Regions from separate parts of the Homo sapiens genome. Here regions 1, 2 and 3 are each linked to region 4. Evidence: fine-mapped expression QTL. A gene starts in region 4. Each other region holds a variant in brackets. All regions are shown on one strand. Distances are between the middles of the regions.

Region 1 (8,102 bases), 470 kb after region 4:
CCTCTGCTCCCAGCCGTGAGGCTCCTTGGCACCTCCAGCCTCCCGCTCTGCCCTCACCCTCAACCCAGAGACTGTTCTCTTGTGGCTCCGGCCTCGGCCCCGTCTGTCTGCAGGTGGCACTCAGGCTGCAGGGAGGAGTGAAGATGGAGGAGGGGGGCTGCGGGCCAGGTCAGGAACTCCAGGGTCTGCCTGGGTCTCCCTAGCTTTGTGCCCTGGAGCTGATGCGCCCGTGACACCCGGCCTCGCCGCCGCACACGCCCTCACGGTGCAGCTGCTGCTGGGGCTGATGCCTTGGCTCTGCTCCCGAGCATCTCTTGCCTTCCCTCCTCCTTGCCCAGCCCCCGAGGAGGCTGTGGAGGGCCATTTATCCACAAGAGCTCTGGCCTCTCCCAGATCAAAGGAAGCAGATGGGCCTCAGCTGTCTGCTCTTCCCCTGTCTGCCAGGCCTTGTTAAATATTTAAAATGTCAAGGCCCCTGGGAACCTGCCCGATTCTGCCATGGAGCTCAGGAGCTCTTGCGTGCCTGTGGAGGCAGGGGCACGGAGAAGGGCAGGTGCACAGGTGGGTGGCTTGGCCTCTGACGGGCTTCCAAGCACCTGGGTCCCCAAGGCCACAGTGCAGGGAGCCGGCCAGGCCTGGATCTGCTGCCCACAGAATGAGCAGCAGAGGACCGGCCCCTCCCCTCTTCAACCCTCAAGGTCCTCGGGCTGGAGCTGTCGGGCTTGAGCTGTCTGGGTGCCAGGAGCGGGTGACTCGCTCCCCGCATCCCCTAGCCCGGCCGTGCACCCGGACCCTGGTGCTCAGACCTGCCTGCCCCTCAGTCCTCCTCAGACACAAGGGCCTGAGCCACGGGGGCAGCTGGCTTTGTTGTGCCCCAAGCCCCATGCCAATCCCCTGACAAGGTGGGCAGACGTGGGGCTGCCCAGGAGGCAGGCACTCCCCCGTGGGGCAGGTGCTTTATGGCGCATAGTGCATTGCGGGAAGGGGACTTTATCTTCTGGCGGTACACTCATCAATCCACTGCCCTCCCTGTCTTGGGAGCACTCCAAGAGGATTCCAGAACCCATCCTGGAAACCGCGCTGCTGTTGTCAGGAAACCTGGGTCTCAGGCTGAACTCAGAGGTGGGTTCGCCCGGGAACCTGGCCCCGCCCAGTGCCCCTCTGGGCTCCACAGGCAGTTCTGGAAAGGAGGGGGCGGATTCGCTGGGAGCCGACACGAGATGCTCCTAATCCAATTCTGATGGCATCTGGCCTCTGCTCCGGGCAGGCCGCCCATCTGTGTCCATGCCAACCGGCCAGCCCCTGCCCCCATGCCCTGGACCTGGACTGCCCTCGGGCCTGCTGGGGAAGCATGTGCTCAGAGCCAGAGGGGCCGCAGCTGTGTTCCTCCTCCCCGTCAATGGGTGCTGCAGTGGGGCAGCCGTCGGGACCCCGAGCCCACAGGAAGGCTAAGGAGAAACGAGCAAGGCTACAGCTGCAAGGGCAGGTCAAGGCCAAGGGAGAGGCTGGCGAGGGCGAGGGAGCTCCTGGGGAATGGGCCAGGGGTCCCGGCTGCTCTCAGGGACAAACTGGGCATGTGAGGAGGGGCAGGCAGGAGAGAGACTCGCATGGAGGCTCCAGGCTAAGGGCAGTGGAGACCCCAGGTGTCTGGGGAGCCCTCCCCTGCTCCTCTCCCTCCGCAGAAGCCCCACGGTTAGCACGTGCTTCTTCTTAAGTCACTTGGGGGGTCTTGTACTCCCTAGTACTGTCCCCACCTGGCTTAGCTCCTGTAATTCCAGGAGACAGTCCCAGTCCAGAGCGAGGTGCACACCCCTCAGTTGGGTCCCTGGTCCCCAGCCCCCTCCCCACCACCCAGGAGCTGAGGTCGTGCGTTAACCCCAGGCTCCCGATTGGGGCAGGCTCGGGCCTCAGCAAGAGGCCTTTGGCTCCTGAAGAAACCTGAGCCAGGGGCAGAGAGGCACGGACAGCTGCGGCTCTTCTGGGTGGGGAGGACGCCATGTGGCCGTCGCCTAGCTGGGGTGAATGAGCCACGGTTGTGCGGGCGGCAGCTTCTGTTCCACTGCGGCCAGGGCTACCCCTGCCCCTCCTCAGAAGCCCCAAGGTTAGCATGCGCCTGTTCTCCAGTCATCTGGAGGGTCTTGTGTGCCTTCCCAGACCCACTGTGAGTGCCCCATGGGCTGGGGCTGGGCTCTCTGGTCATCCCGTCCCTGCAGCAGATGGCAGGCGTGAGCCCAGCTGCCCAGGGCTGGGAGCTGCAAGCTGCTGTCTGTCCACCAGGTGTCAGTGTGGGTCTGGTCACGGCCGCGACAGCACTGGGCGCCGGGTGAGCGCCCGGGAGGGCTCCTCGGGATCAGCCGGGGCTGAGAATCCTGGGGCCAAGGGTGGGGCCAGAGGAGGGTGTCATCCCACATGCCTGCCCCGGTAGAAGGTGGCTGAGTGGGTGTCCAGGCCCGGATGCCAGTCACGCACGTAAGCTTCCAGTACCTTCAGGCCAAGGAAGACTGAGAAGTAAGCGTCCTCAAGGATGACAAGTGACAGAATTGGATAGGGACAGGTGGCTCTGATTGTGAAGGCAAAGCCAATTTGGGGGCTTCTGAGTGGCTTTGGGTGTCATTCAAGTCGCCATGTAGACAAGCTGTGAGCCCTGGCTGAGGGATCAAAGTTGGTGCTGGAGTTGCATTAGAACCAAGGCTGCTGGGTCCTGAGGGCCCTGTGCTCACCGGGTCCTGTCGGGCAGCGTAGGTTCTGTCCTGACCTGGGCCACAGGCCAGAGCTCTGACTCATGGTTACAGGGCCCTCTCCACCTCCGGCCTCAGTGGCCTTGTCTGCACCCTGCAGAGAGCAGCTGATGAGCAGCCCAGGGTGGGCAGTGTCTCCCCGACCCCTGCGAGGCCATGCAGCCCAGAAAAGGCTTGAAGACTTCCCAGTCCCCTCCCTCAGCACCGTGACTCCGGTTTGGCTTCTCCCCGCCTGTTCCCCACCAGGAACCCACTCCCATTCCCGTGCCTCTCTCTCTCCTCGCGTGACACCGTTCTTCTTCTTTGGGTCTCTGGACCCAAGAACTTGCATCTCCCATTAGCTCTCATGCTCCCTCCCCACTGCTTCTTCCCCGAGAAACTTCTGGAAAGTAAGCCTCCGCTCCCTGTTGCCAGCAGCCACAGGCACCCTGGAGACTGCTGATTCCTCGGCACTGGCCGTGCTCATGCCCCAATCCCTCGGGCCCTGCCCACCCTCTTTGCAGGCTGTCCCTGCCCCCACAGGTTGGGCTGTGTGACACTGCCAGTCTTTGGGACCGGCTGGCCCCATCTTACAGAGCTGGGGAGGGGGGTGTTGGTGACAAGCCTGCTCAGGGAATTCATAGGCTGGGAGCTAGAGAGGTGTTTCCTGACAGGCACAGAGCCCTGGCCTAGTCTTTGGCATCTGGTGCCATCCCAGCCTCCCCTGATTGGTGGCCCTCCCCATGTCTCCACTAAAGTCCCCTGGACACTCGCTCTCCTCCCCAGGGGACCATTGGCTATACTCTTCTGTCCTGTCTCCTAGCAACCCTTGTTGACCTGGACATACCCTGCTGGGTCCCCTCTGTGCCCCCTTGTTGGGTCCTGTCCCCTGCCTTCCAGTGCCCCCTCAGCGGTAGTGTGGAGGTGGCCAGGAAAGCACAGGGACCTGGGACCCGCTGGAGTCCAGGAGCCTCCTGGCCTGTTTTGTCATCTGTGTGTCAGGAGGAGGATGGCTAGGGACTCCCCATGACAGCAGCCAGAGAGCCGCATGCTCACTCCCACGTGCACACCCCCAGCAGTCTGCAGAAAGGCTCCTGTCTAGAGGGAGAGCCAGGCGCTGGCCAGACGGCCCCAGAGGGCTGCTGCCACCCCAGGAGCAGTCAGTCAGGGCCACATAGGAGGCCTGGGACACACAAGGCCGACCCGTCCCATCCCATCCTCCCCTTCTGTGCTTCCGGGGCACCATGCAGGCCTGGCGGACAACACCAATGACCTGGAGAAGCGCAGGCAGATCTACGGGCAGAACTTCATCCCCCCAAAGCAACCCAAGACCTTCCTGCAGCTGGTGTGGGAGGCCCTGCAGGACGTGACCCTCATCATCCTGGAGGTGGCTGCCATCGTCTCTCTGGGCCTCTCGTTCTATGCGCCGCCAGGAGAGGAGAGTGAAGGTAAGGCCCGGGGGCCTGG[G/A]CTGGAAGGAGGAAGAGGAATGGGGCTTGAGATGAGGGACGGTCACAGGATGGTGATGTCTCCTCCACTGCTTCCCTTCTGTCCTCCGCACAGCCTGTGGGAATGTGTCGGGAGGCGCAGAAGATGAGGGCGAGGCCGAAGCTGGCTGGATCGAGGGGGCTGCCATCCTGCTGTCCGTCATCTGTGTGGTGCTGGTCACGGCCTTCAATGACTGGAGCAAGGAGAAGCAGTTCCGAGGCCTGCAGAGCCGAATTGAGCAGGAGCAGAAGTTCACGGTCATCCGGAACGGGCAGCTCCTCCAGGTCCCCGTGGCTGCGCTGGTGGTGGGGGACATTGCCCAGGTCAAGTACGGTGAGTGCCCTGGTCTTCACCCACCCTGTCAAGGAAGCTCGGCTCCTGCTTCTGGGGAGGGTGAGCCAGAGGAGACCCCCAGCACAGGTTCTCCCCGGTGGCCTGCGTGTCGTCACCTGCCTTAGGAGGCGGGAGGTGGCGGGGGTGGGGGAGGTGGGGGAACACGGGGCAGGGCAGAGTGGTTTCAGACACAGCAGGCCCCCGAAGAATCAACTGTCCCCACAGCCTCCACGGCGGGCTTTCCCCCCTACAAAGGATGCAAATGTCCTCGTTCCCCAGAAGGAGGAGGGCTCCTGAGTCCCTTTCCCAGGCGGCCCATGGCACCTGACGGGACCTCCCCTGGGGCAGCCGGGAGGAGGCGGTGGGGAGAAAGGCCTCTGCTTCCCGGTGCTCTAGGCGACCTGCTGCCAGCCGACGGCGTGCTCATCCAGGCCAATGACCTCAAGATCGACGAGAGCTCCCTGACGGGCGAGTCTGACCACGTGCGCAAGTCAGCTGACAAAGATCCCATGCTGCTCTCAGGTGAGGGCCACCCTCCGGGCCAGCCTGGCACCAAGGGGCGTCAGCAGCCGTGTGGCCCAGCATCCTGTCCAGGCTGCCTGCTGGGCTCAGCCTCCACCTCCACCAGGGCCTTCCAGCATAACCTTCAGGTTGGGAATCTGAAGACTCCGCCCGTCTTGAGGCCTGATGGTGGCAGCTCCAGCCACAGGGCGAGGAAGCTGGCCCTCCAGGCCCGGGAGAGTGCTTTGTGTCCTGAATGGGAAGCCCCAAGCGGAGAGGCTTGCAGGGGCCAGCACAGCGCTGTGCTTCTCTCAATCCAGACCCTCGACAATATCCAGTGGGGGTAGTGTTCCCTTTCCAGAAGGTTTCAGCATAGTCCGGTGTTTATCCCAGTTGGAAACGTAGTGTGAAACGGGACAGGAAGGCTGGAGGCCCTAGGTGGGCCCTGTGGGCCTCGGGGTCTCCTCCAAGCCAGGGAGGAGGCTTCAGCCTAGTTTTAAGGTGGACACCGCGTCCCTGCTTCCGGGAGACCCTGGGAGACAGGTTGTGGGCGCTGAATGTGTCTCCCACTGGGTGATACAAATTCCTGTCTCAGTCTCTGTGTTGCTGTTCCAGGCACTCATGTCATGGAAGGTTCTGGAAGAATGGTGGTGACCGCCGTTGGCGTGAATTCCCAGACAGGCATCATCTTCACGCTGCTTGGAGCTGGCGGAGAGGAGGAAGAGAAGAAAGATAAGAAAGGTAGCGCAGCAGTGCCGCCAGTCCCTGGTGCTGGTGGCGGCTCCTTCCACGCTGCCCATTCTTTCTTTGCGGGCCGGTGCCACTGGGGGCTCAGGGAGAGCCAGCCCAAGTGGGTGGGAGGCCGGGCCCTCTCTTTTGATTCTCCGTGGAGACTCCTCTTCTGAGGATATCCCCCCTGAGAGCCGGCAGGCCAAGGGCCCCTCCAGTGCCGTGGACGGGGAGTTTCCCTGAGACCACCATCCCCAAAGGCTCCGGGATCCCATACCTACCTGGACAGGAATGGCGTTAGAGGGACAGGAGCTACGGGGAGCCTCATGCTTACCCTCAGGGCCCGTGCCCAGTAAGGTGCCGAGGATCCCAGGCCAGCGTGGGAGGCAGCCAGGGAGGTGGGGGTCAGAGGTCAGAGGAGGCTGGGACAGGTGAGGGCCGGGCAGCCCAACTGTGGGTGGTGGCCCTGCCCTGGGGCTTACAAAGCTAGGCAAGCCCGAGCCAGGAGGGCCCATTCCTCGTCCTGTGGCTGGAGCTGCCACCATCAGGCCCTGCAGCGGGCGGAGTCCTCAGACCTTCTAACCTGAGTACTATTCAGGGAGGCCCTGATGGACAAGATTGAATGGCTGCCACAGCCCCTTCTGGCTGGGCAGCCTTGCTCTGGCCTGGACTTGCCTTCTGGCCTCTCCTGCAGCCAAAACATGGTAGGGAGCCACACCCGCATGGGAAAGCTCTGCTTCCTGCCAGTGACCTCCAGCCAGGGCCCTGGGGCCAGTGCGCGGGGTGTGGGGGCGTGGGGGCGTGGGGCGGGCAGTCAGGGCCCGGGGAAAAGGTCAGCCCTGAGCCCAAAGCTCCCTGGAGGCAGCAAAGGAGTAGCTGGATGACCCTCTGTGGCCTAGAAGCTTCGACGAGCCCTGCCTCCTGGCAGCCTGGGCCTGTGTCTCCCTGCACCGGCTCTTCTTTGTGGCACCAAGTCCTGTAGGGCTCAGTGCAGTGTCTCACCCCAGTGAGTGCCCTGGGGGTGCGCAGGCAGATGGGCAGCCCTGGGCCTCGTCTGGGCTGGGCTGGAGTCCCTAGGCCTCTGTCCTGGGAAGCCCAGCTGCCCCTGCCTGGGCTGCCTCCTCATGTCTTGCACACAATGGCCCTCTCCCATCGTCCACGGGAACCCACGCTCCTCTGGAGTCTCCAGCCGCCCTTCTCAGGCTGCTCACCTTCTCTGTACCTTAAATGAGTGTGTCCTTCCTAACTGTTCCAGGCCTCTCCTTTCTTTTTTAAATTGACAAGACCATTCAGCCCCTCCCAGGCCCCACCTGGCCCTCCTCTCCAGCACCCTCAGGCTGTCCTACTTAGGAGTCAGAGCTAGAGGGCTTCCTGGAGGAAGAGAACCCTGAGGGGGCCCTGGAGGGAGAGCAGCAGCTGGCCAGCTGGGTAGAGGGTACCAGCAAGACCAGGGGGCTCCCTGCTCGCCCTCCCCGTCTCTCCCGCCCCATCCCCATTGTTTGGCGCAGCCTGCCAGGTACACGCTTAGGATACTTGCCTTCTACCTGCACCCAACCCCCTATTTCTTGTCTCTTGACCTTGACTCCTATGCACCTTTCTCCAAGTGTGCTTCTCCTCCTCACCTTCCCCCCACTCCTGTCTCTTCTGGCGGGGCCCAGCCCTCCTCTTCCAGCAATGCTCATCCCAGACTTCCCCCTGCCTCCCTCCTCCAGAGGCCTCCCAGGGCCTGTGTGCAGGCTGGGTCCAGAGTCCATGCTTCCTTCGGGCCCCCACGGCCCCAAGGCTCTGCCATCTCCCCTGCTGTGCTGTGCGGTCATCGCACTGCCATCTTGTGTCCGTGGGGGTCTCCCCTCCCTGCAAGAAGGGCCCTCTGTGCCCACAGGAACCCTGGGCGGAGAGGGCCTGATCAATGCCCCACCCCTGGCTGAGTAGGGTCGGGGGGGGGGCCCTCCCTGCTCCCTGGGGACCCCGGATCCCAACCCCAACTGCCTGGGAGTGCAGATGTGGCCCCCAGGAAGCTCCTCTAACTGCAGCTCTCAGAAGGGGTGACTGTGCCCACCACCTGAGCCCCTGGATAGGGCCACTTGGGGCCCAGCCTGGCCTTGCAGGGCTGCTGTGTGCCGGGGCTCAGGCTGGCACTCCTGTGCTGCAGCCCTGGGTTGACCAATGACCTGAAAGCGCCCCGCAGAGTCCTAGCGTCTCATTCCTTTGTCCCTTTAAAACACACACTGGGGCCAGGCACAGTGGCTCATGCCTGTAATCCCAACACTTTGAGAGGTCAAGGCAGGTGAATCACTTGAGGTCAGGAGTTGGAGACCAGCCTGGCCAACATGGCGA
Region 2 (8,102 bases), 25 kb after region 4:
ACTGGGAGCTGTGGGCTTTAGAACTATGTGTGGGACATTTCCTAGCCTGAGGAGAAGTGGAGAGGGATTTCCTATCTCCTTGCCAAAGTTAAATTTTCTTGCCAAAATGTGGTGCAAAACTGAATTATAATAAAACAATCTTGAAGTTAGTAACACGATGCAAACTATAAGTTATTGTCATAGTCTGTTTTGTGCTGCTATAACAAAATGCCTAAGGCTAGGTAATTTGCAAAGAACAGAAATTTATTTCTCACAGTTCTGGAGGCTAGGAAGTCCAAGCTCAAGGCACCAGCATCTTGTGAGGGCCTTCTTGCTGCATCAGCATATAGTGGAAGGCATGAGGGCAAAAGGGGACAAATGCTGTGTCCTCACATGTCAGAAGAACAGAACAGCACAAACCCACTCTAACAAACCCTTTTTATTTAATGGCATTAATCCATTAGGCTCTCATGACTTAAATATTGTCCAAAAGTTCCTATCTCCCAACGCTGTTGCAGTGGGGATTATATGCAACACATGAGCTTTGGGGAACACATTCAGTCCATAGCATTGCCCCTCTGGCCCACAAAATTAATGTCCTTCTCACATACAGAATACATTCATTTCATCCCAATATTCCCCAAAGATTTAACTTATGCTAACATCAACTCAAAAGTCTAAAATTCAGAATCTCATCCAAATCAGATTTATGTTACACACATCTGTGTGAAGAGACCATCAAACAGTCTTTGTGTGAACAATGAGGCTGTTTATTCACTTGGGTGCAAGTGGGCTGAGTCCGAGAAAGGAGTCAGTGAAGGTAGATGGGAGAGGGGCAGTCTTATAGGACTTGGGTAGGCAGTGGAAAATTACAGTTAAAGGTGGTTATCTATTGTTAGCAGGGGAGGGGGTCACAAGGTGCTCGGTGGGGAGCTCCTGAAACTCATTGTCTAGGGGAGGAATGTCACAAGGTCGATTGATTAATTAGGTTGGAGCAGGAACAAATCACTATGGTGGAATGTCATCAGTTAAGGCAGGAACTGGCTGTTTCACTTGTTTTGTGGTTCTTCAGTTGCTCCAGGCCATCTGGATGTATATGTGCAGGTCACAGGCGTTATGATGGCTTAGCTTGGGCTCAGAGGCCTGACATTCCTGTCTTCTTATATTAATAAGAAAAACAAAACAAAATAGTGGTGAAGTGTTGGGGCTGTGAAAACTTTTGGGGGTGGTATGGAGAGATAATGGGCAATGTTTCTCAGGGCTGCTTCGAGTGGGATTAGGGGTGGCGCGGGAACCTAAAGTGGGAGAGATTAAACTGAAGAAAGATTTTGGGGTAAGGGGTGATATTGTGGGGTTGTTAGAAGGAGCATTTGTCATATAGAATGATTGGTGATGGCCTGGATGCTGTTTTGTATGAACTGAGAAACTAAACGGAAGACACAAGGTCTGAATAAGAGAAGGAGAAAAACAGGTATTAGAGGACGAAGAATTGGGAGGACCAAGGACATCCAATTAGAGAGTGCCCAAGGGGGTTCAGTGTAATTATTTGCTTGGTTGGTGAGTTCTTGGGCTCTATCCTTGAGTTTTTCTATGTTGTCATATACCAGGCCAGTTTGATTTAGGTAAAACAAAACAAAACAAAACAAAACAAAAAAACGCTTCATTTAAAAATATACAGAGTCCTCCTTTTTTAGCAGTAAGTCGAGGTCTCAGCTGTTTTGGAGGACAACCACAGCTAAAGAGTCAACCTGGGCCTGAAGGACTGATAAAGTTTGTGATATGTCTGTGATGCTAGCAGAGAAGTCATTAGAGAGGCTATGGAAGGTTGTGACAGAGGTTGAAATGCCTGCTACTCCAGTTCCAAGAGCAATAGTGGAGGCAGAAAGTCCTAAACCGACAAGCAAGGGAATTAGTGGAATAACCCTTTTTTGTTGTGTCAGTGTCATGAAGGGAACAGGAAGCTGTTCGGTCCCATTTGCAAATTGAATTTTGGGAGTAAGGAAAACTGGTGTGCATGCGCCTGTCCAATTAACAGGAAAACACATGTAGGTGGATGAGCCACAGAGGAAAAAGAGACCTTGTGTAAGGCAAAACTGGAAGTGCAAAGTGAAGAGGTGAGAGGGTGTACTAAAAGAGATGTCTTCATATGGCTGGGAATGTGGAGTAGGCAAGAGAAGATTAGCAGTCTGGCGAATTTCCTGTCTAGCCTGCTGAAGGACTGGAAGATAGTCACCTAGAGGGCTGGTGTCTGGAAAAGTTTGGGGCTGAGCAAGAAAGTACGTCCACATAAAAGTTTAAATGGACTGTACCCTGTAGCATCTTAAGGGCAGGCTCTAATTCTGAGAAGGGCAAGTGGTAGAAGTACTGTCCAGTCCTTTTTAAGTTGGAGGCTGAGCTTGGTGAGGTGTGTTTTTAAAAGGCCATTAGTCCATTCTACCTTTCCTGAAGATTGAAGATGGTAAGGGGTATGAAGATTCCACTGAATACCAAGAGCCTGAGAAATTGCTTGGGTGATTTGACTAATAAAAGCCAGACCATTGTCAGATTGCACAGAAGTAGGGAGGCAAAATCGGGGAATTATATCTATTAGAAGGGAAGAGAAGACTGCAGTAGCCTTTTCTGAGCTACTGGGAAAGGCCTCGACCTACCCGGTGAAGGTGTTGACCCAAACCAGGAGATACTTAAATTTACGGACACAGGGCATATGAGTAAACTCAATCTGCCAATCTTGTGTCAGAGTAAATCCATGAGCCTGATGCATAGGAAAAGGAGGAGGCCTGAGAAAGCCTTGGAGGCTGGTGGTATGGCAGACAGAGCATTGAGAGGTGATGGTCTTAAGGATGGATTTCCATGAAGGGAAGGAGATGAGGGGCTGCAGGAGGATAGCCAGGCTTGTATCCCACATGGAAGTGGTCATGAAGGGAAGAAAGAATGGACTGAGCTTGTGAGGCAGGAAGAATGAATTTTCCATGCTCGAAGGACCACTTGCCCTGAGTTGGAAAAGACTGGTAGAGGAGGTTTTCAGAACCAGAGTAGGTGGGAGTGATAGAGGAGAAAGAAAAATACTGGTCCTCTGGAGTGGGGGCTGGAATATTAGCAGGTGTGGAAACATTGGCTGTTTCTTTTGCTGTCCTGTTGGCATAAGCATTTCCTTTTGCAATAAGATCAGTAGGTTTCTGGTGTCCTTTAAAATGAATGACTCTAGCCTTGGCTGGCAGGAGAGCAGCCTTAAGGAGGGCCTTTATGAGGGAGGCATTGATAATGGAAGAGCCTTATGTGGCAAGGAAGCCTTTTTTGGCCCAGATGGCAGCATGGTTATGGAGGATGTGGAAAGCATATTTGGAGTCAGCATAAATGTTAATGTGCATTCCTTTAGTGAGAGAGAGCACACAAGTTAAAGCAATCAGTTCAGCTTGTTGGGAAGTGGTGGAGGGAGGAAGTGCA[G/A]CAGCTTCGATAATAGAGGTGTGGGACATGACAGCATATCTCGCTTTAGCTGGTGAAAATTGATTGAGTTTAGAAGAACTGCCATCGATAAACCAAGTATGGTCTGGGTTTGGAATTGGAAGAATAGAAATATGAGGAAAAGGGGAAGATGCTAAGTGTATTAGGGAAATACAGTCATGTGGTTCAGGACTTGTTTTGGGTGCTAAGTGAGAAGCTGGGTTGAAATCAGGCCCATGTGTAATAGTTACTGTTGGAGTTTCAACAAAGAGTGAATATAGCTGGAGGAGTTGAGGGGCAGACAATAAATGTAAAAGGTGTGAGGAGGATATTAATGCTTGAAGGTTGTGAGAACTGTAAAGGGTAAGTGGAGCATAGCCTGTGATTTTGAAGGCCTCTAGAAGTATTAAAGTGGCAGCTGTCACCACACGCAGACATGAGGGCCAGCCCAGAACTGTGAGGTCAAGTTGTTTTGATAGAAAGACAACAGGTCGTGGGCCTGGCTCCTGTGTGAGGACTCCAGCAGCACAGCCTTGTATTTCAGCTGTGTGTAAGGAAAAAGGATGGGATGAGTTGGGGAGTGCTAGTGTGGGAGCTGTCTCCAGGGCCTTTCTGAGAGAGTGAAAGGAATAATGGGGTAAAGACTTAGGGTCTATGGGATCAGTTAAATTACCCTTTGTGAGCTTGTAAAGTGGTTTGGTTAAGATAGCAAAGCCTGGTATCCAGAGTTGGAAATATTCAACAATGCCTAAGAAGGAAAGGAGTTGTTGTTTGATGGTGGGGATTGGGGTCTGGGAGATGAACTGAACAATGTCTTCAGGAAGGGTGTGTGTATGTTGATGGAGGATTATACTGATATAGGTAATGCTAGGGGAAGAAATTTGTGCCTTGGAGGGGGATACTCGGTACCCCTTTGAGTAGAGATGTTGAAGAAGCAGAATAGTGTCCTGCTGGGAAGATTGGTAAGAGGGGCTGCAAAGAAGAAGATCAGCAATATATTGAATAAGGTGGGAGGCAGATGGGCAAAAAGAAAGCAGATCATGAGAAAGGGCCTGACCAAAGTAGTGTGGGCTGTCCCTGAAGCCCTGGGGCAGAACAATCCAGGTGAGTTGTTGGGATTGGTGGGTGTCAGGGTCAGTCCAAGTAAAGGCGAAAAGAGGCTGGGAGGAGGGATGCAAGGGGATAGTAAAGAAGGCACCTTTGAGGTCGATAATAGAATAGTGAGTTGTGGAAGGGGGTATTGAAGATAGGAGGGTGTGCGGGTTTGGCACTATAGGATGGATGGGAAGGACGATTTGATTAATAAGGCGAAGATCCTAAACCAACATGTAAGACTTGTCCGGTTTCTGGACGGGTAGGATAGGGGAGTTGTAAGGAGAATTTGTAGGCTTTAAGAGGCCATGTTGTAACAGGTGGGTGATAACAGGCTTTAACCCTTTTAAAGCCTGCTGTGGGATGGGATATTGGCACTGAGCAGGGTAAGGGTGGTTAGGTTTTAGTGGGATGATGAGGGGTGCATGATTGGTTGCCAAGGTAGGAGTAGAGGTATCCCATATTTGTGGATTAAGGTGGGAAGATACAAGAGGAGGATGTGAAAGAGGCCTTGAATTGGGTAAAAGTGCAGCAATGAGGTGTGGCTGTAGCCCAGGAATAGTCAGGGAAGCAGATAATTTGGTTAAAATATCTCAGCCTAATAAGGAAACTGGCAGGTGGGCGTAACTAAAAAAAGAGTGCATAAAATAATGTTGTCCAAGTTGGCACCAGAGTGGGGGAGTTTTAAGGGGTTTTGAATCTTGGCTGTCAATACCCACAACAGTTATGGGGGGCAAGGGAAACAGGCCCTTGAAAAGAAGGTAATGTGGAGTGAGTAGCCCCTGTATCAATTAAACAGGGGACGGACTTACCCTCCACTGTAAGAGTTACCTGAAGCTTGGCGTCTGTGATGGTCCAGGGGGCTTCTGAGATGATGGGGCAGCATCAGTATTCAGCCACTAAGCTGAGGAGATCTGGGAAAGAGTCAGCCAAGGAATATTGGGTTTGAGCTCCAGGAGCTTTAGGAGTGGCGGCGATGTGAGTTGGACAGTCTGATTTCCAGTGGGGGCCCACACAGACAGGGCATGTCTTAGGAGGAATCTTGGGCTGTGGGCATTCCGAGGCCCAGTGGCCAGGCTTTTGGCATTTGAAGCAAGGTCCACGAGGAGGTTTTGAAGGAGCCCCTGGGAGCCGTGGCTTGGATGTTCTGAAGGTTTTGTATGCTGGAGACGTGGTTGTGGGTTGTCTTACAGCGGAGGCAAGTAGTTGTAACTCAGAGATAAGTTGCTGCTTGGCAGCTTCTTCTCTGTTATTGAACACCTTGAAGGCAAGGTTGATTAAATCCTGTTGTGGGGTTTGAGGGCCAGAATCAAACTTTTGGGTTTTTTTTTTTTTTAATGTCAGGAGTGGATTGGGTGATAAAATGCATATTAAGGATAAGGCGGCCTTCTGGTCCCTCTGGGTCTAGGGTGGTAAAGAATCTAAGGGTTGTTGCCAAACGGGCCATGAACTGGGCTGGGTTTTTATATTTGATGAAAAAGATCCTAAACGCTAACTTATTTGGGAGAGGTCAGATAAAGAAAAAGTCACATGTACCCTGACTATGCCTTTAGCTCCAGCCACCTCTCTAGGAGGAAATTGTTGGGCAGGTGGGGGAGAGCTAGTCGGGGAATGAAACTGTAAGCAAGACTGAGTGTGAGGAGGGGGGGTAATAGCAGGGTTATAGGGTGGGGGAGCAGAGGCTGCGGAAGAATTGGGACCCGATTCAGCCTGGCGAGGAGCGGCCGGGGGAGGAGGAGAGAGGTCAGAAGGGTCAGTGGAAAAGGAGGATTCAGAGGACTCTGAGCTTGGGGTGGAGACTGAAGGAGCAGACGGGAGAGAAAGAAGGAAAATCTGAGACAAGTCGCACTGGGAGCAGAGACTAGGGAGGGAGCGAAGTGTAAAAAATGTTTGGACGTAAGGCACCTCAGACAATTTGCCCAATTTTTCACAAAAATTATCTAGGTTTTGTAGGATGGAGAAATCGAAAGTTACATTTTCTGGCCATTTGGAACCATTGTCAAGTTTATATTGGGGCCAAGCGGCATTGCAGAAGAAAATAAGACTTTTGGGTTTTAGATCAGGTGTTAGTTTAAGAGGTTTTAAGTTTTTAAGTACACAGGCTAAGGGGGAAGAGGGAGGAATGGAGGGTGTAAAGTTGCCCATAGTGAAGGAGGTGAAATTGAAGAGAAAGGTAGAGATGTAGAGAAGGGGAAGTGAGCAGCTACCAGGCTTTCATTAGGTGTCCCTGGCTGAGTCCTGGGCTGTAATGTGGGTGATCAGCCAAAGCAGGCATCCCCATAATTGGCTTGCCACGAGGGGAGTGTGGGTGAATGATCAAGGCAGGTGTCCCTGTGAAGATCAGACACCAAGGGACGACTGTCTTCCCAAATCTGTGACCGACGTCGGGGTTTCTGAATTCACAGATAAAATGTGTCTCCTTTGTCTCTACTAGAGAGGAAAAAGAACTGGAATTGGAAGGACAAGGAGATTGAAGGGTAGCAAGAGAGGCTGGAGAAGAGAGTGAAGAGACCACTTACCCAATTTGAAATTGGTGAGATGTTCCTGGGGCTTGTCTGAGGACTGGAGGTCATAGGTGGATCTCCTCATGGAGTGAGGGCAAGGACAGGGGACTGGTCTCCCAAAGGAATCCCCCTGTTCCGGGTTTTTCGGCACCAAATGTTACACACGTCCATGTGAACAGACCACCAAACAGGCTTTGTGTGAGCAGTGAGGCTGTTTATTCACTTTGGTGCAAGTGGGCTGAGTCCGAGAAAGGAGTCAGCAAAGGAAGATAGGAGAGGGGCAGTCTTAAAGGACTTGGGTAGGCAGTGGAAAATTACAGTTAAAGGTGTTTATCTATTGTTAGCAGGGGAGGGGGTCACAAGGTGCTCAGTGGGGAGCTCCTGAGACTCATTGTCCAGGGGAGGAATGTCACAAGGTCAATTGATTAGTTAAGGTGGGGCAGGAACAAATCACAATGGTGGAATGTCATCAGTTAAGGCAGGAACTGACTGTTTCACTTGTTTTGTGGTTCTTCAGTTGCTCCAGGCCATCTGGATGTATATGTGCAGGTCACAGGGGTTATGATGGCTTAGCTTGGGCTCAGAGGCCTGACAATATAGATGAGACTTAAGGTATGCTTCATCCTTAGGTAAATTTCTCTCCAGGTATGAGCCTGTGAAATCAAGCAAATTATGTACTTCCAATATACAATGGTAGGACTGGCATAGGATAAACATTCCCATCCCAAAAGGGAGAAATAGGAGCGAAGAAAGGAGTAATAGGCCACAAGCAAGTCCAAAACCCAACAGGGAAAACAACCATAAATCTTAAGGCTTGAAAATAATATTCTTTGACTCCATGTCCCACTTTCCGGACACACTGATGTGGGGGTGCAGTCTCCAAGGTTCTGAGCAGCCCTGTTCCCATGACTTTGCTGGGAACAGAGCATGTTTCAGCTCTCATGTATTGAAGTTGCATGCCTGTGGTTTTCCTAAGCCGGAGTTGCACTCTGGTGGCTCTACAGTTCTGAGATCTCAGGGGTGACCCCACTTCCACAGCTCCATTAGGCTTTGCCTTAGTGGGGGCTCTCTATGGTGGTTCCATGT
Region 3 (8,102 bases), 520 kb before region 4:
TGATTATCTCAATAGATGCAGAAAAAGCCTTTGACAAAATTCAACAGCCCTTCATGCTAAAAACTCTCAATAAATTAGGTATTGATGGGACGTATTTCAAAATAATAAGAGCTATCCATGACAAACCCACAGCCAATATCATACTGAATGGGCAAAAACTGGAAGCATTCCCTTTGAACACTGGCACAAGACAGAGATGCCCTCTTTCACCACTCCTATTCAACATAGTGTTGGAAGTTCTGGCCAGGGCAATCAGGCAGGAGAAGGAAATAAAGGGTATTCAATTAGGAAAATAGGAAGTCAAATTGTCCCTGTTTGCAGACGACATGATTGTATATCTAGAAAACCCCATCGTCTCAGCCCAAAATCTCCTTAAGCTGATAAGCAACTTCAGCAAAGTCTCAGGATACAAAATCAATATACAAAAATCACAAGCATTCTTATACACCAACAACAGACAAACAGAGAGCCAAATCATGAGTGAACTCCCATTCACAATTGCTTCAAAGAGAATAAAATACCTAGGAATCCAACTTACAAGGGATGTGAAGGACCTCTTCAAGGAGAACCACAAACCACTGCTCAACGAAATAAAAGAGGATACAAACAAATGGAAGAACATTCCATGCTCATGGGTAGGAAGAATCAATATCGTGAAAATGGCCATACTGCCCAAGGTAATTTACAGATCAATGCCATCCCCATCAAGCTACCAATGACTTTCTTCACAGAATTGGAAAAAACTACTTTAAAGTTCATATGGAACCAAAAAAGAGCCCGCATCGCCAAGTCAATCCTAAGCCAAAAGAACAAAGCTGGAGGCATCACACTACCTGACTTCAAACTATACTACAAGGCTACAGTAACCAAAACAGCATGGTACTGGTACCAAAACAGAGATATAGATCAATGGAACAGAACAGAGCCCTCAGAAAGAACGCCGCATATCTACAACTATCTGATCTTTGACAAACGTGAGAAAAACAAGCAATGGGGAAAGGATTCCCTGTTTAATAAATGGTGCTGGGAAAACTGGCTAGCCATATGTAGAAAGCTGAAACTGGATCCCTTCCTTACACCTTATACAAAAATCAATTCAAGATGGATTAAAGACTTAAACGTTAGACCTAAAACCATAAAAACCCTAGAAGAAAACCTAGGCTTTACCATTCAGGACATAGGCATGGGCAAGGACTTCATATCTAAAACACCAAAAGCAATGGCAACAAAAGCCAAAATTGACAAATGGGATCTAATTAAACTAAAGAGCTTCTGCACAGCAAAAGAAACTACCATCAGAGTGAACAGGCAACCTACAAAATGGGAGAAAATTTTCGCAACCTACTCATCTGACAAAGGGCTAATATCCAGAATCTACAATGAACTCAAACAAATTTACAAGAAAAAAACAAACAACCCCATCAAAAAGTGGGCGAAGGACATGAACAGACACTTCTCAAAAGAAGACATTTATGCAGCCAAAAAACACATGAAAAAATGCTCACCATCACTGGCCATCAGAGAAATGCAAATCAAAACCACAATGAGATACCATCTCACACCAGTTAGAATGGCAATCATTAAAAAGTCAGGAAACAACCGGTGCTGGAGAGGCTGTGGAGAAATAGGAACACTTTTACACTGTTGGTGGGACTGTAAACTAGTTCAACCATTGTGGAAGGCAGTGTGGCGATTCCTCCGGGATCTAGAACTGGAAATACCATTTGACCCAGCCATCCCATTACTGGGTATATACCCAAAGGACTATAAATCATGCTGCTATAAAGACACATGCACACGTATGTTTATTGCGGCATTATTCACAATAGCAAAGACTTGGAACCAACCCAAATGTCCAACAATGATAGACTGGATGAAGAAAATGTGGCACATATACACCATGGAATACTATGCAGCCATAAAAAATGATGAGTTCATGTCCTTTGTAGGGACATGGATGAAATTGGAAATCATCATTCTCAGTAAACTATCGCAAGAACAAAAAACCAAACACCACATATTCTCACTCATAGGTGGGAATTGAACAATGAGATCACATGGACACAGGAAGGGGAATATCACACTCTGGGTACTGTTGTGGGGTGGGGGGAGGGGGGAGGGATAGCATCGGGAGATATACCTAATGCTAGATGACGAGTTAGTGGGTGCAGCGCACCAGCATGGCACATGTATACATATGTAACTAACCTGCACAATGTGCACATGTACCCTAAAACTTAAAGTATAATAAAAAAAAAAGAAAGGTACCAAGTAGGCTTATGCTTTAAAATGATCATGCACTGGCTGCTGTTTGGAAAACAGACGATAGGAAGACAAAGGTATAGAAATGCACAGACATAGGTACAATGATGGTCACTGTCTCTGTATTTAAAGAGATGAAAAATAAAAACAGCTGAAATATCCACCAATGAGAGTAGGTTAAAGAAATGATGTAACATGCAACCATCTCCTGGACCACTGGGCAGCCCTTCAAAGGAATGAGGCAGAACTATGTGTAATATTTGGAAAGATGCCTATTACATGCTGTTAAGTGAACAAAAAGCCAGTTGTAAAACAAAATGGTAAGATCCCTCTTTTACTAAAAAGAAGAAAACATGTAGAGCACCACACACACACACCCTTTTTTGTGGAAGCATAGAAAATATTAAGCGAGTAATTTATGGTAGACAGAATAATGGAACCCCCAAATATATTCACACCCTAATCCCAGAAACTGTGAATACGTGACCTTATTCACCGTAAATATGTGACCTTATTCAAAGTAAAAAGGACTTTGCAGATATGATTAAGGGTGTGAACCTTATGATAGGGAGAGCATGCTGGTTCACTTAGGTGGATCCAATCAAAGCACATGAGTCCTTAAGAGAGATAAACTTCCCTCGCTGAATCAGAAAGATGGCAGCATCAGAAAGATTTGATGCATTGTTCCTTGTTCTGAGATGTAGGAGGCTGTGTGAAAGAACCACAGGGAGGCCTTCAATAATTAAGGGCAGCCCCTGCAAGACAGCCAGCAATGAAAGGGGGACCTCAGTTCTGCAACAGCAAGGCACTAAGTTCTGCCAACATCTGAATGAGCTTGGAATCCAATTCTTCCCTAAATCCTCCAGAAAAGAACACAGCCCTGCCCATAATTTGACTTTAGCCCTGTAAGACCCATAGCTGACTTATGATCTCTAGAACTGCAATCTGTATTGTTTTAAGCCACTAAGTTTGTGGTGATTTGTTAAAGCAGCAATAGAAAACCAATAATACGTAACCTCAGCCAGCAGGATCTCACAGCAAAAGAGGATCCCAAGAAAAAATTAGAGAAATTAGATTGGTTAGATCTTATTCCTGGCCCAAACCCCAGAGTCTCTGATTCAGCAGGTCTGGGGTGGGGCTTCAGAGTTTGCGTTTCTAACAAGTTCCTAGGGGATGGAGGTGCTGCTGGTCCAGGACTACAGTTTGAGTACTGTTGATCAAGAGAATAGGGTCTAGAACCATACCTACTGGAACCAAATTTTGGTTCCACTGCATACTCACTTTTGACCTTAAGCAAATTATCTTTGCCCTAGTTTTTTCAACCATTAAGGGGATGGTAATACTAGTTTCTACCTCATGAGCTTATTCTGAGACTAAATTAGTTAATATATGTAAAATATTTAGAAAGCTGCCAGCACATATTTAGAACTAGGTATATTTTAACCATTATTACTTTACTGTGTACTTATTTGACCTGTAATCTGTTTTTTTACAATCAAATAGAATCTCTCTTTGAAAGTCATTCATATCCTTTTCCAAGTGCCTTCCCTTTTTCTCACTTTCTCTGACATCCTATTAACCTTTAGACCAAAACCTTCATAGATAGACCTCTTTCTTCAGCAAACCTGGCCCTCACTGGGGAAATAAAAGCCTCCAGCTACAAAACAACAACTGCCCTTTCTCCTTTCCTGCACCTTCTCCTTCACTCTTTTTCCCATCAGTTGAAGGGGAAATGCTTCAGGAAAAGGGAACTGCTACAACAGCAAATCTTTCTTGCTCAGCCTTCCCTTTCAATACTTTAATAATTGAGCTGGTCTGCTCTACTCTGAGTGAGCTCTAGAATTATTGTTCTCCTGAGAATTTGACGAGGCAATACTGAAATAACAAATGTAATTTACTTCAACTTTCGCTAAACAAAACAAAATGGTTTATGCATCATCACGTCGCGTCTTTTTGATAAGCCACCTCTACTCATGATCAAAAATATGCGGCTGATAAATAAATTCAATCAGCAGACAAGGCTCTTGTAGCTCTTTAAATTGTCAATCTCTATTGACAATAGCAGCAATTTCAGCTAAACACTGAGGAGGCCAGCAGGCCACTAACTCCCAGCCTCCGCTCCCACTTGCAAACAGAGCCCCACTGTGGCTCTGCAAGCCCTTCGCCCACACTCTCACCTACCCGGCCACCAATAGGCAGCTTCTCAGCCTAATTGTACCTTTATCTG[C/G]TACAACTTTGAACTCAGCGAAATTTATACCAGGTGTTGCAAATTTTTTACTGGTAATGAGTTAATTTACACAGATGGCTGTCACTTCTCCATTTCTCCAGCTCCTTTGCTGATAAGGCAGGAAACAGCTTGACTGTGCAGAGCCCGTGGAGCCCAGAAAAGTCGGGGATGGGGAGTGGTCCCTGACCAAATGGACACGCCCTGGCTCCAGAGCTCTGCCCTGGCCCCCAGAGCAAGCCAAGCCTTACCCACCGACCCTGCCAACTCTAGCCCAGGACTTTTAGTTCCCTGCTAAAAGAGCTCTTACACAACTGAAACGAGACCAACCAACCCACTAGTTGGGAGGGCAGGGGGTGGCAAGAGAGATGTGATTATAAGTACCTTTTAAATCCCAGGAAATTCATCTTTTCAATTGCTTTTGTTGGTTTTTCAACCCGGAAGGCCTCAAATGCGTGCTAAAGCATCTTGTGAAAGTGCTAACGGGGGATGCAGCGCCTCAGAGTTAGATACTGCCAAATAAGGCACCCTCCTCACTGTGTGAAGCCCTCTGGGTTAGTGGCTCTGCAGGCAAGGCGGCAGCAAGCGCCCAGGGCTGGGCTGGGACTGTCTCCCAGCCTGCCTATATAATGGAAAACTGTATCAATAATAATAGGTAACATTATATACAATGTTATATGTAATCATAATGGCACCAAATATAATTCACGGTTAACATTTCGCATTCAATGCCTTCACCTGGTGGATTTCGAATCTGACCAAGAATTCCAATCACCTACAGAGCGTTTCCAACTCTTGAAGCCCAGGTTACACTCCATACTACTCAAATCGGATCTCTAAAGGCAGGAGCCAGTGGGCAGTGTTTGTTAAAGATGATTCCAGGTGATTCCAATGTACAGCAAAGTTTAGGAACTGCTACCTGAACCCAAAGGAGAGACATCAGCAACCCTGGACAGGCAAGCAGGAGCTAATTTTTTGAGTTGAGCCAACTCTCCACATAAAGTGCCATCCCCTAGCCTCTAGCCTGTTCCATCCCTGCTGGTACCGTGTTTGTTTTCTTTTAATTTTTTGAGGGCAGGGGATGCCAAGGTCCCCCAGGCATATAATGTCTTTCATGAATAATGTCTTAATGTCTTTAAGAAACTATGCTCTACAAGCCATACTACTAGCAGCCTGGGTCACTGCCAGCCTCCCATTACCCATGCTGGACCCAATCAATCTTAGCCACACCCTGTCCCTCATCTTTCCCCTCCCCTTGCAGTCCATGACCATCCTGTTCCCACCACAACAAAGCATTCCCTGAATCCCGGCTCCAACTGTCCACCTCCTAGCCATCAATGCAGGCACAACCCGAGTGCCATTCCCTCCATGAAATCTATGTTGATCTTCTCTCCAAGTTGTCTCTACAAATCTGAGGGTCAGGTCTATAGATTTAATGAAAAGAGCATCACACATAGATCAGTAGACCTGGATGTGAGATTTCACCACTGTAACCGAAATGCTAGTTGTTGAGTCAATTTTATTTTCCCCTTCTTCCTTAAAACTATCCTTGGACTGCCTAACACTGTGCTGATTTTACTGGGAAAAAACCCAAACCTCTACCTTGATCCACCAGGTGATGTTATTAACAGCCAAACCTAACTTGAACTGGAACAAGTAGATGCTGGTTGTGAGATCCTGGACAGGCCATTGTTCTTCTGAACCTTAGTTTCTTCAACTATAAAATAGGAAGAAAATGAGCTGTGAGGATTATTTAAAATCACCTAACAGTTAGTTGAACTTGTCTGTATCTTAATTAATTGAATAAAAACTTCTCACTTCGTAGACAATGGAACTGAGCACTTAAAGGGGAAGTGCTTTGCTCAAGGACACAAAGAAAATTAGTAGCAGGTGCAGGAATTAAAACCAGAGCCCCTTTGATTTGGAACTCAACTTAAATCAACAGAACTCAGGCTTAACTACTTGAAAATCATTGCAAGCAGTAATGAGAAAATATTGATTTAAAAATCATGTTAGTAGATGATCAAAAACAGAAGCTATTTAGTCCATTAGGAATTGCTTTTAAGCTGGGAGGGTGTGGGAAAGATCTTATAGAAAGATAACCAACAGTCAATTATGCCCACACTAGGTATGGAATAGTTTATTCTCCACTCATGTGAAATGCTATCTTTACAAACACCCACCCACACACACACACACACACAATCTCACGGATCTATTTGTCTATTCCTGTGCCAATAAGTCATTGTGCTGATTAATGGCAAGACGAGCCCCTCCTACCATGTTCCTTTAAAAAGTTTTATTCGCTTTTGTTGCTTTCTCTTTCTAATGAATTCTAGAATCAGCTTCTCAAATTCTATAAAACATCTCACTGTGATATTAATTGGGTTGCATTACATTTATAATTTCTGGAGAACTGACATCTTTACTATAATAATAGTGCTTATTGTGTACCAGGTATGATTCTATTTTCCCTGCCAGGTGCCAAGTAAATTATCTAAGCATTTGGGGTATATTTTCAAAAATATAGACATGTATTTATATTTTATTTTATTTCTTATGTCAAAAAATTAAAACAGAGATTCTTGCCCTCAAGAAGCTTATATTTTGGCAGAGGTAGTCAGTCAATAAATAAGAAATACGGCCTGGTGCGGTGGCTCACGTCTGTAATCCCAGCACTTTGGGAGGCCAAAGCGGGAGGATCACTTGAGTCCAGGAGTTTGAGGCCAGCCTGGGCAACATAGGGAGATCCCATCTCTACAAAAAGTTTAAAAATTAGCTGGACGTGGTGGCATATGCCTGTGGTCCCAGCTACTTGGGAGGCTGAGGTGGGAAGATCGCTTGAGCCCAGGAGATCAAGGTTGCAATGAGTGATGATCACACCACTGCACTCCAGCCTGGGTAATAGCAAGACCCTGCCTCAAAACAAACAAACAAAAATAAGTAAATGATATCATATGCTAGAGGGTAGTTAGTGCTATAGAAAATAAAATGAGGAGGGAAAGTAGGATACAGGGAATCAGGAGAGCAGGGTGCAGGTCACACAGCCTTATATAGGTTAATCATGGTAGAATAACTCATTGATTCCTCAGTGAACCTTAACTCTATGGCTACTGACACTTTACAGGGAAATAAAATTGAGGCACAAAGAGGTTTAAGTAATAGGCCAAAGTCACACTGCTAGGAAGTGACAGAGCCAGGATTTGAAGTTGAGCAGGCTGGGCTCCAGATTCCTGGAGCCAGAGTCAATATTCCTAACCCTACACTGCATGCCATCCAGGTTCCAGGTATGTTTCTCAATTTCCATCCATCTTTATATCCATCAGCAAAATATAACATTTTTCATTTAGTATGGCACATTTCTTGTTCAGTTTATTTTTATGTATTTATACTATTTCTTGCCATTGCAATGTGAAATATTTTCACCATGACATTTTCTAATCAGCTTTTGCTACTGTATGGAAAAGCTATTGATTTTTATGTGGTAATCAGCTATCTCTGAGTGCTTATAAGTTCCAGTAGTCTTCCGGTTGGTTTTCTTGGATTTTATAATTAGAAACACATAAAATAACAGTTTGCCTCTTCCTTTCCATTATGTTTTTATATTTCATTTTTG
Region 4 (8,102 bases):
AGAGAGGTCACGTCCAGAGACAGAGCATTCATCGGAGGTGCCGTATGTCCCAGGGTTGAGGCTGGGAGCCCGCCCCCACCACGCTTAGATCCAGCAAAGTAGGAGGAGGAGGAGGAAGGTCCAAGGGCAGAGAGGCAGGTAGAGAGGGAGGAGGTCAGCCCAAAAGTGGGGTGGGGGAGAGGAAGAAGCTGAGAAAGGAAATGGTTTTGAGAAGGAAGGAGAGTCAACTGTGTTGAGAGGTGGAGACAATGGGGACAGAGGACTGACAAAAGAAAGACAGTTGACGTGTCACAGCCCAGCCTTGCCCGGGGTTGGCGGGGGGCAATGGGTGTCCTGCAGCGTCCTGGACTTGGAGTCAGCAGGTGCAGAAGGAAGGAGAGTGGGAAGAGACAAGGCCGAAAACAGGAAATTAGTTGCGAGCCGGCCGGTGGGCTGGCTGGGCCAGTTGGAGACACCAGACCCACAGATGTTCCCAGGGCGGGGGCGGCCGAGGCGGGGGGGGGGAGGGGGGGGGGGTCGGTGCCCTTTCTGAAGAAGGACTCCAGAAAAATCACGGCTGAAAACAAGAGAGAGGACAATATGTGGTATAAGCCGTGACAAGTCTAACACTAAAGGTTCGATAGACAGACACTCTCACAGCAGAGGTAAAGAGCAGCAGTTTGCCTGAATGAGAACAAGCAGTCTTGGCCCTCAAGGGGGAGAAGCGGTGGGGGGCAGGGGGGCGGGGAGGACTGGACACACGAGCCCAACCGGGGAGGCTGCTTTGTGACAGAAGACATGCGTTTCTTCGCTGACCCCACGTTTACTACCTGGGAGGTAGAAAAGCCTGGGGAGCAAGACCATGCCAACCTAAGTACCACACAGAGAGGGAGCCTCCCTATAAGAATGGTATTCAGAAATAGGCACTGCAGTGGGGACGCGTGCGCCCTAGTGAACTATGTGCATATTCAGGCAGGGGAAGGCAGACAAAGGTTTTTCAGGACAAGTGAAGAGGATTACATAATTGTTTTGACATAATGATCTTTGGCTACAAGGATGAATAACAAGGGTAGCATTGGTCAGGGGCTTGGACAGGAAGTTGCTGGGCAGGTGTCCTCACAGAAGTATTATTTGTGTCAGGTTGCAACAGCCTTTGTGCAAATTTGTGGGTTTTGCAGTCTTCCGTGATAGCTTTTGTTATCAGGCATTCGTGCATGGGAACCCTGCCTAGGTGGCCCTCCACAGCTCTATTTGTCAGGTTTTTGGATTTTTGTTTGCTTGAACAACAAGTGACTCCATCTTGATTCTGAAACCTTTCACAACCATACGGGCAAGCCAAAGTCTAATTGTGAGGCCCACTCCAATGCGACCTGCTTCTGGGCAACGTGATAGACTGGCCATGGCTTATATCACAAAAGGAGAAAGGCTTCGATCTTGACGCTAGGAACTTTCTCCTGGAAACGGGCCGATGACGCCTGTCATCTGCGAGATGAGGAGGAAAGGAGCAAAGGAGATTCACAGAAGAGGAACCAGGAACGGCCAGTGAGAGGATGCACGACCTCGCCACCGCTCGGGGAAACGCAAGGCACACAGCGATGAGGTGGTGTCTCTCCCCGTGGGATGGGCAAGCAGGCGAGGCTGGACAGGACCAAAGGCTGCTCGGGCTGTAGGAACCCAGGACCGCTCCCACGCTGCCAGTGCGAGGGAACATGGGTTCAGCCACGCACCGGAGGTCACAGATGAGCAATGCTTGGTTGTGGCGTTGATAGGCACAGCCCAAGTCCCAGCAGAGCCACTGCCTGCTGTGCACCCCAGAGTCTTTCTGGCTGACGGTGGTGGCTCAGACAGGCATGCGGGATGCCACTGGCAGCAGTGTCTGCAACAGCCAAACAGTGGGAAGGACCGGAATGTCCATCCCCAGGGTCATAGACAAATACTCTGGGGCTGTGATTCAGCAAGGAGCTTGGGCGAGCTGGACGCTTGGGGGAAACCTTGGCCAGCAAGTTGCCAAACAGGAGGTCAGGCAAGGAAAGAGAAGGGGATGAGGGAACGACACCCAGAGGTGTGACCCCGTGGGAACCTGTTTGCCACCTGCCTGGTGGAGATGCTGTTCACATGGCCCCAGCCTCCCATGATGGGTCAGGTGCAGGGTGGTCAGATCCACGGGCGCAGAATCTCTGTTTTGAGCGGAGGCTGCTCTGCCCTGGCGCAGTGTCTAGCCCCGGCAACAGAGGACTGGGGAAGGACCTATGGAAGGCTGACTCAGGCCCTGACAGACGGAGGTCTCCAGGGAGGTACGACACCCATGCTGCCCTCAGGGCCAAGAGAGCAATGTCCCAGAGCCCATCAGGCTGGTGAGGGCACAGGGGGCAGGGGACAAATTGAGTAGCCCACTCCGCGCGGACTACCTTTCCAGGCACACACTCAGGCAGAGACCCAGACTCGGGACTTGCGGCTGCAAAACGGACGAGGCCCGGGCATACTTGGGTGCTGGGTCACCCTCCTAGGTGCTGGCTCCTGGCACCAGGGCAGCAAAGTGCTTCGGCCGGAGGGCTGCGGGTCCCTGAAGCCGGATGGGCAGCGGGGAGATGGCAGACCCTCCGTAGGATGGTGTGCGTGAGCTGCGTGAGCGCCTGGGGCATCTCCTCCACGGAATGGCACCCGCACCAGGTGCCCCTGGCCTCGCCTGGCCTTGCCAGCCAGAGGACCAGTCCTGGACGGGGAGGGGGAGGACAAGAGCAGGTGCACAGGCCCCAGAACCCGGCTCCCTGACCCTGGCCAGAACGCAGAGCTGCCGGACGCACCTCAGACCACTCCCTGGCCCTCTGGTGGGCACGCCGGGGTGCACACCCGTCGCCCCGCTGGCGCCTGCCTCCGGGGCACGTGCGGGAGGGGCAGAGGCCTGGACCAGGAACCGCTGTGGTGAGAGCCAAAGGCGCTGGGACCTGCGGCCCACAGACCTTTGGACACCCCGGTGGGGGTGGGGGTGGGCTGGCGCCTGTGTTCCCGGGACCCGCGGCGCGAGGGGAGTGGGGGTGGGGCTAGGGGATAGGAGCAGGTGACGTCACCCGGGGTCCTGGGGCGCTCGGGAAGGCGGCGAGAGCCAGGCCACGTGACCCGCCCGCGGCAACGGCCCTGCGCTCTCCCGGGCCGGCGACGCGGAGGGGTCCGCGCTGCACCGCCGCCGCACCCCGGCCGCGTGACCGCACTGCAGAGAGCGGCTGCGAGCAGGCGCCTGCGCACCGGCCCAAACGCCGAGCGAGCGAGGGAGAGGCACAGTCAGAGGGAACGCCCGCGCGGGGAGCCAGGGGCGCCCGACCCCGCCGCCGCCGCAGCGGCGCGCAGCCCCCGACGCGCCCTGTGGGGACCCGGACCAGGAGGGACCCTGCCCCGGGAAAAGGTATCAGACCCACCCGGGGAGGGGGACGCTGGGTCCCGGGAGACTCCGCCGCCCCTCGCCTGTCCGCCCTAACAGAACTGAAGCAGCCTGCGGGGCAGCGGTCCGGGGTCCGGGGTCCGGGGTCCGGGGTCCGGGGGCGGCGCGGGGATGAGGCCAAGACCCGCAGGGACCACCCCCCCGGGGGGGCGGGGCGGGACAGGGGCGGGGCCTGGCTGCAGAGGCGCGGCCAGGGGAGGAGGGCGGCTGGGGGTGGGAGTGGACGTGGACGTGGACGTGGGCGTGGGGAGGGGTGGGCATTAACCTCGCTCTCGCCCGCTCGCATTCACAGGCTGTGGAGACCTGGGCTCCGACCCCAGTTCATCCCCCCACACCCCCGCCGCCCCGTGCCACCCTGGTCCGCGCTGGGAACCCTATCCTGCCCCTCGTGTCAGCCCGGCACTGGCCAGAATCGCGGGCATGGCGGTGACCATGCTGCAGGACTGGTGCCGGTGGATGGGGGTCAACGCTCGCAGGGGCCTGCTCATCCTGGGCATCCCGGAGGACTGTGATGATGCCGAATTCCAAGAGTCCCTCGAGGCTGCCCTGAGGCCTATGGGACACTTTACAGTGCTAGGCAAAGCGTTTCGAGAGGAGGATAATGCCACCGCGGCCCTGGTCGAGCTCGACCGGGAAGTCAACTATGCTTTGGTCCCCAGGGAAATCCCCGGCACTGGGGGCCCGTGGAACGTGGTCTTTGTGCCCCGTTGCTCAGGCGAGGAGTTTCTCGGTCTCGGTCGCGTGTTCCACTTCCCGGAGCAAGAGGGGCAGATGGTGGAGAGCGTGGCCGGCGCCCTGGGTGTGGGGCTGCGCAGGGTGTGCTGGCTGCGATCCATCGGTCAGGCGGTCCAGCCCTGGGTGGAGGCCGTGAGGTGCCAGAGCCTGGGCGTGTTTTCCGGGAGGGACCAGCCAGCCCCAGGGGAGGAGTCCTTTGAGGTCTGGCTAGACCACACCACCGAAATGCTGCATGTGTGGCAGGGGGTCTCGGAAAGGGAGAGGAGGAGGAGGCTGCTGGAAGGCTTGCGTGGGACCGCCCTGCAGCTCGTGCACGCGCTCCTGGCGGAGAACCCCGCCAGGACGGCGCAGGACTGTCTGGCGGCCCTGGCCCAGGTGTTTGGAGACAACGAGTCCCAGGCGACCATCCGGGTGAAGTGTCTGACCGCTCAGCAGCAGTCAGGCGAGCGTCTCTCAGCTTTCGTGTTGCGGCTGGAAGTGCTGCTGCAGAAGGCCATGGAGAAGGAGGCCCTGGCCAGAGCATCCGCCGACCGCGTGCGCCTGAGGCAGATGCTCACCAGGGCCCACCTTACTGAGCCTCTGGATGAAGCACTGAGGAAGCTGAGAATGGCCGGGAGGTCTCCAAGTTTCTTGGAGATGCTGGGGCTCGTTCGGGAGTCTGAGGCATGGGAGGCCAGTCTAGCCAGGAGCGTGAGAGCCCAGACACAGGAAGGGGCCGGTGCCCGGGCTGGTGCCCAGGCTGTTGCCAGAGCCAGCACTAAAGTAGAGGCGGTCCCAGGAGGTCCTGGTCGGGAGCCAGAGGGCCTCCTCCAGGCAGGAGGCCAGGAGGCTGAGGAGCTCCTCCAGGAGGGGCTCAAGCCCGTCCTGGAGGAATGTGATAACTAGGTTGGGGCTGGGGAGGCAGCCCAGCGCGAGTCCTCCCCGGGCAAATAGGCTCCGAGGGCCCCGGGGCCTCCTCTCCTCCTCTCAGGCAGCAGGGCCCTGGAGACAGGCGGAGGCGGGGCCAGGGCCGGTCCCTCACCCCACATCGGGATCGGGGCCCCCCACTTCCCCCCAAGGGGCCCTGCCCACCACCACCTTCCCGGTGACCCAGATGACCACATTTAATACCAAATGGGGTGGGGGGAGGCGCCCCTCCAGTGCCAGGGGCACGTGCTGTGAGCTTCCTGGGAGCCCAGGTTGTGCTCACTGCTCTCCCGTATCGTGAGCACCACCTCTGCTTTCCCTGCGTAGATCTAGGCCAGGGGCTGCTTGTTTTTGTGGAGCCGTGTGTGTTCTTCTCTGAGCAGCTCCTCCCCAGAGGACCCCAGCGCAGTCCCGGGAGATGGCGGAAAGAAGGCACCAGGGCACAGTGGACACTCATCCCGTGACAGCGATGGTGACCATGACTGTGGGAGAAAGAACAGGACCCGGGATGGAGTGGGGCTGTCTGAGTTTCCCCAGTGAACTTTGTGCTTTGGCGTTCCACCCCTGTTGTTACTTGTTACTGAGTTTCCTAGACCTGGGGTGGGTGTTCCCCCAGGAGGAGGGGGGTCCCGACCTGTGTCCTGTGGTGGCCATTTGCAGCTTCTGTGTTGTGATTCCCTTCTCTTCAACGGTTTCAGTACATATCTCTCTTCAATAAATTTCATTCAGTGTTCCAGCCGGCCTCGCCTCTGCTGTGGGAAACTGCATGGGGTGCGGGGTGCGGGGTGCAGTGTTGGCTGGGGACAAGGTGAGGTGAGGTGCCACAGTGGCTGGGCTAACATCGGGGTGTGTGGGGTGCTTGGTCCCTGAGGGTCTGTGTGGTCCCCTGGGCTGCACGGGATGGCGTGGTAGTCTTGAGCAGGGGCTGATTGGGTTCCCAGGGCACGCTGATCACCTCCCAGGAGTAGGTGGTTTGGACGTTGCAGACAGGCAGAGGGACAGTAGGCTAGGTCCTGGTATCCAGGATCCCTGACAGCACTGCGGGGTGGGGTGGGGGGGGCGGCGCTCAGGGCTTTCAGAAGGGTCAGAGTGGCCACATGTGTAACCTCAGGCTGGAAGCCAAGGTCAGGGAAGAGCCCCAGGAGGGCCTGGGCATGAAGTCAGAGGCCCACACGGGAGCCATGTGGAGGACTCCGCGGGTGGGGGACCGCTCTTGGGAGACCCAGGCAGCTGACACCCTTGAGAGGGCCTCTTTCCCCCTGCCTCTCCCAACCCAGGACAAGGAGTGGGGGGCAGACATCTTCAGGTGCCCCCACCCAGGCCACAGCTGGCCCCGATCCCGATGTGGGGTGAGGGACCGGCCCTGGCCCGGCCTCCGCCTGTCTCCAGGGCCCTGCTGCCTGAGAGGAGGAGAGGAGGCCCCGGGGCCCTCGGAGCCTATTTGCCCGGGGAGGACTCGCGCTGGGCTGCCTCCCCAGCCCCAACCTAGTTATCACATTCCTCCAGGACGGGCTTGAGCCCCTCCTGGAGGAGCTCCTCAGCCTCCTGGCCTCCTGCCTGGAGGAGGCCCTCTGGCTCCCGACCAGGACCTCCTGGGACCGCCTCTACTTTAGTGCTGGCTCTGGCAACAGCCTGGGCACCAGCCCGGGCACCGGCCCCTTCCTGTGTCTGGGCTCTCACGCTCCTGGCTAGACTGGCCTCCCATGCCTCAGACTCCCGAACGAGCCCCAGCATCTCCAAGAAACTTGGAGACCTCCCGGCCATTCTCAGCTTCCTCAGTGCTTCATCCAGAGGCTCAGTAAGGTGGGCCCTGGTGAGCATCTGCCTCAGGCGCACGCGGTCGGCGGATGCTCTGGCCAGGGCCTCCTTCTCCATGGCCTTCTGCAGCAGCACTTCCAGCCGCAACACGAAAGCTGAGAGACGCTCGCCTGACTGCTGCTGAGCGGTCAGACACTTCACCCGGATGGTCGCCTGGGACTCGTTGTCTCCAAACACCTGGGCCAGGGCCGCCAGACAGTCCTGCGCCGTCCTGGCGGGGTTCTCCGCCAGGAGCGCGTGCACGAGCTGCAGGGCGGTCCCACGCAAGCCTTCCAGCAGCCTCCTCCTCCTCTCCCTTTCCGAGACCCCCTGCCACACATGCAGCATTTCGGTGGTGTGGTCTAGCCAGACCTCAAAGGACTCCTCCCCTGGGGCTGGCTGGTCCCTCCCGGAAAACACACCCAGGCTCTGGCACCTCACGGCCTCCACCCAGGGCTGGACCGCCTGACCGATGGATCGCAGCCAGCACACCCTGCGCAGCCCCACACCCAGGGCGCCGGCCACGCTCTCCACCATCTGCCCCTCTTGCTCCGGGAAGTGGAACACGCGACCGAGACCGAGAAACTCCTCGCCTGAGCAACGGGGCACAAAGACCACGTTCCACGGGCCCCCAGTGCCGGGGATTTCCCTGGGGACCAAAGCATAGTTGACTTCCCGGTCGAGCTCGACCAGGGCCGCGGTGGCATTATCCTCCTCTCGAAACGCTTTGCCTAGCACTGTAAAGTGTCCCATAGGCCTCAGGGCAGCCTCGAGGGACTCTTGGAATTCGGCATCATCACAGTCCTCCGGGATGCCCAGGATGAGCAGGCCCCTGCGAGCGTTGACCCCCATCCACCGGCACCAGTCCTGCAGCATGGTCACCGCCATGCCCGCGATTCTGGCCAGTGCCGGGCTGACACGAGGGGCAGGATAGGGTTCCCAGCGCGGACCAGGGTGGCACGGGGCGGCGGGGGTGTGGGGGGATGAACTGGGGTCGGAGCCCAGGTCTCCACAGCCTGTGAATGCGAGCGGGCGAGAGCGAGGTTAATGCCCACCCCTCCCCACGCCCACGTCCACGTCCACGTCCACTCCCACCCCCAGCCGCCCTCCTCCCCTGGCCGCGCCTCTGCAGCCAGGCCCCGCCCCTGTCCCGCCCCGCCCCCCCGGGGGGGTGGTCCCTGCGGGTCTTGGCCTCATCCCCGCGCCGCCCCCGGACCCCGGACCCCGGACCCCGGACCCCGGACCGCTG

Which allele goes with the higher level. Alleles are on the strand shown, and positions count from the first base shown. SD is a standard deviation of normalised expression in the study named. Not every link is listed here.
As copies of A replace G in region 1, the expression in atrial appendage of the gene that starts at base 3,227 in region 4 goes down (large effect, 0.92 SD a copy in GTEx).

Evidence for each region.
Region 1: its variant is fine-mapped to the expression of PNMA6A in atrial appendage (GTEx, PIP above 0.99).
Region 2: its variant is fine-mapped to the expression of PNMA6A in whole blood (TOPMed, PIP above 0.99).
Region 3: its variant is fine-mapped to the expression of PNMA6A in transverse colon (GTEx, PIP 0.96).

Annotation. Positions count from the first base shown.
Region 1 is chrX:153,537,392-153,545,493 of GRCh38, forward strand. ATP2B3 (ATPase plasma membrane Ca2+ transporting 3) reads left to right here. Exons shown (of 22, transcript NM_001001344.3): 4 at 3,968-4,165; 5 at 4,278-4,535; 6 at 4,932-5,057; 7 at 5,652-5,777. Among named protein-coding and RNA genes, the nearest start is that of ATP2B3, 24 kb to the left of the region's middle. RefSeq lists an enhancer at 6,481-7,333. The variant G/A (reference allele first, on the strand shown) is at 4,185.
Region 2 is chrX:153,093,867-153,101,968 of GRCh38, forward strand. No RefSeq gene overlaps it. Among named protein-coding and RNA genes, the nearest start is that of PNMA6A, 25 kb to the left of the region's middle. The variant G/A (reference allele first, on the strand shown) is at 3,424.
Region 3 is chrX:152,548,289-152,556,390 of GRCh38, forward strand. It overlaps MAGEA3-DT (MAGEA3 divergent transcript), which reads right to left. Exons shown (of 5, transcript XR_938525.3): 5 at 6,089-6,203. Among named protein-coding and RNA genes, the nearest start is that of GABRQ, 86 kb to the right of the region's middle. The variant C/G (reference allele first, on the strand shown) is at 4,490.
Region 4 is chrX:153,069,228-153,077,329 of GRCh38, forward strand. PNMA6A (PNMA family member 6A) reads left to right here and starts at 3,227. Exons shown (of 2, transcript NM_032882.6): 1 at 3,227-3,379; 2 at 3,708-5,792. The coding sequence starts at 3,836. The coding sequence ends at 5,035. It also overlaps the pseudogene PNMA6B.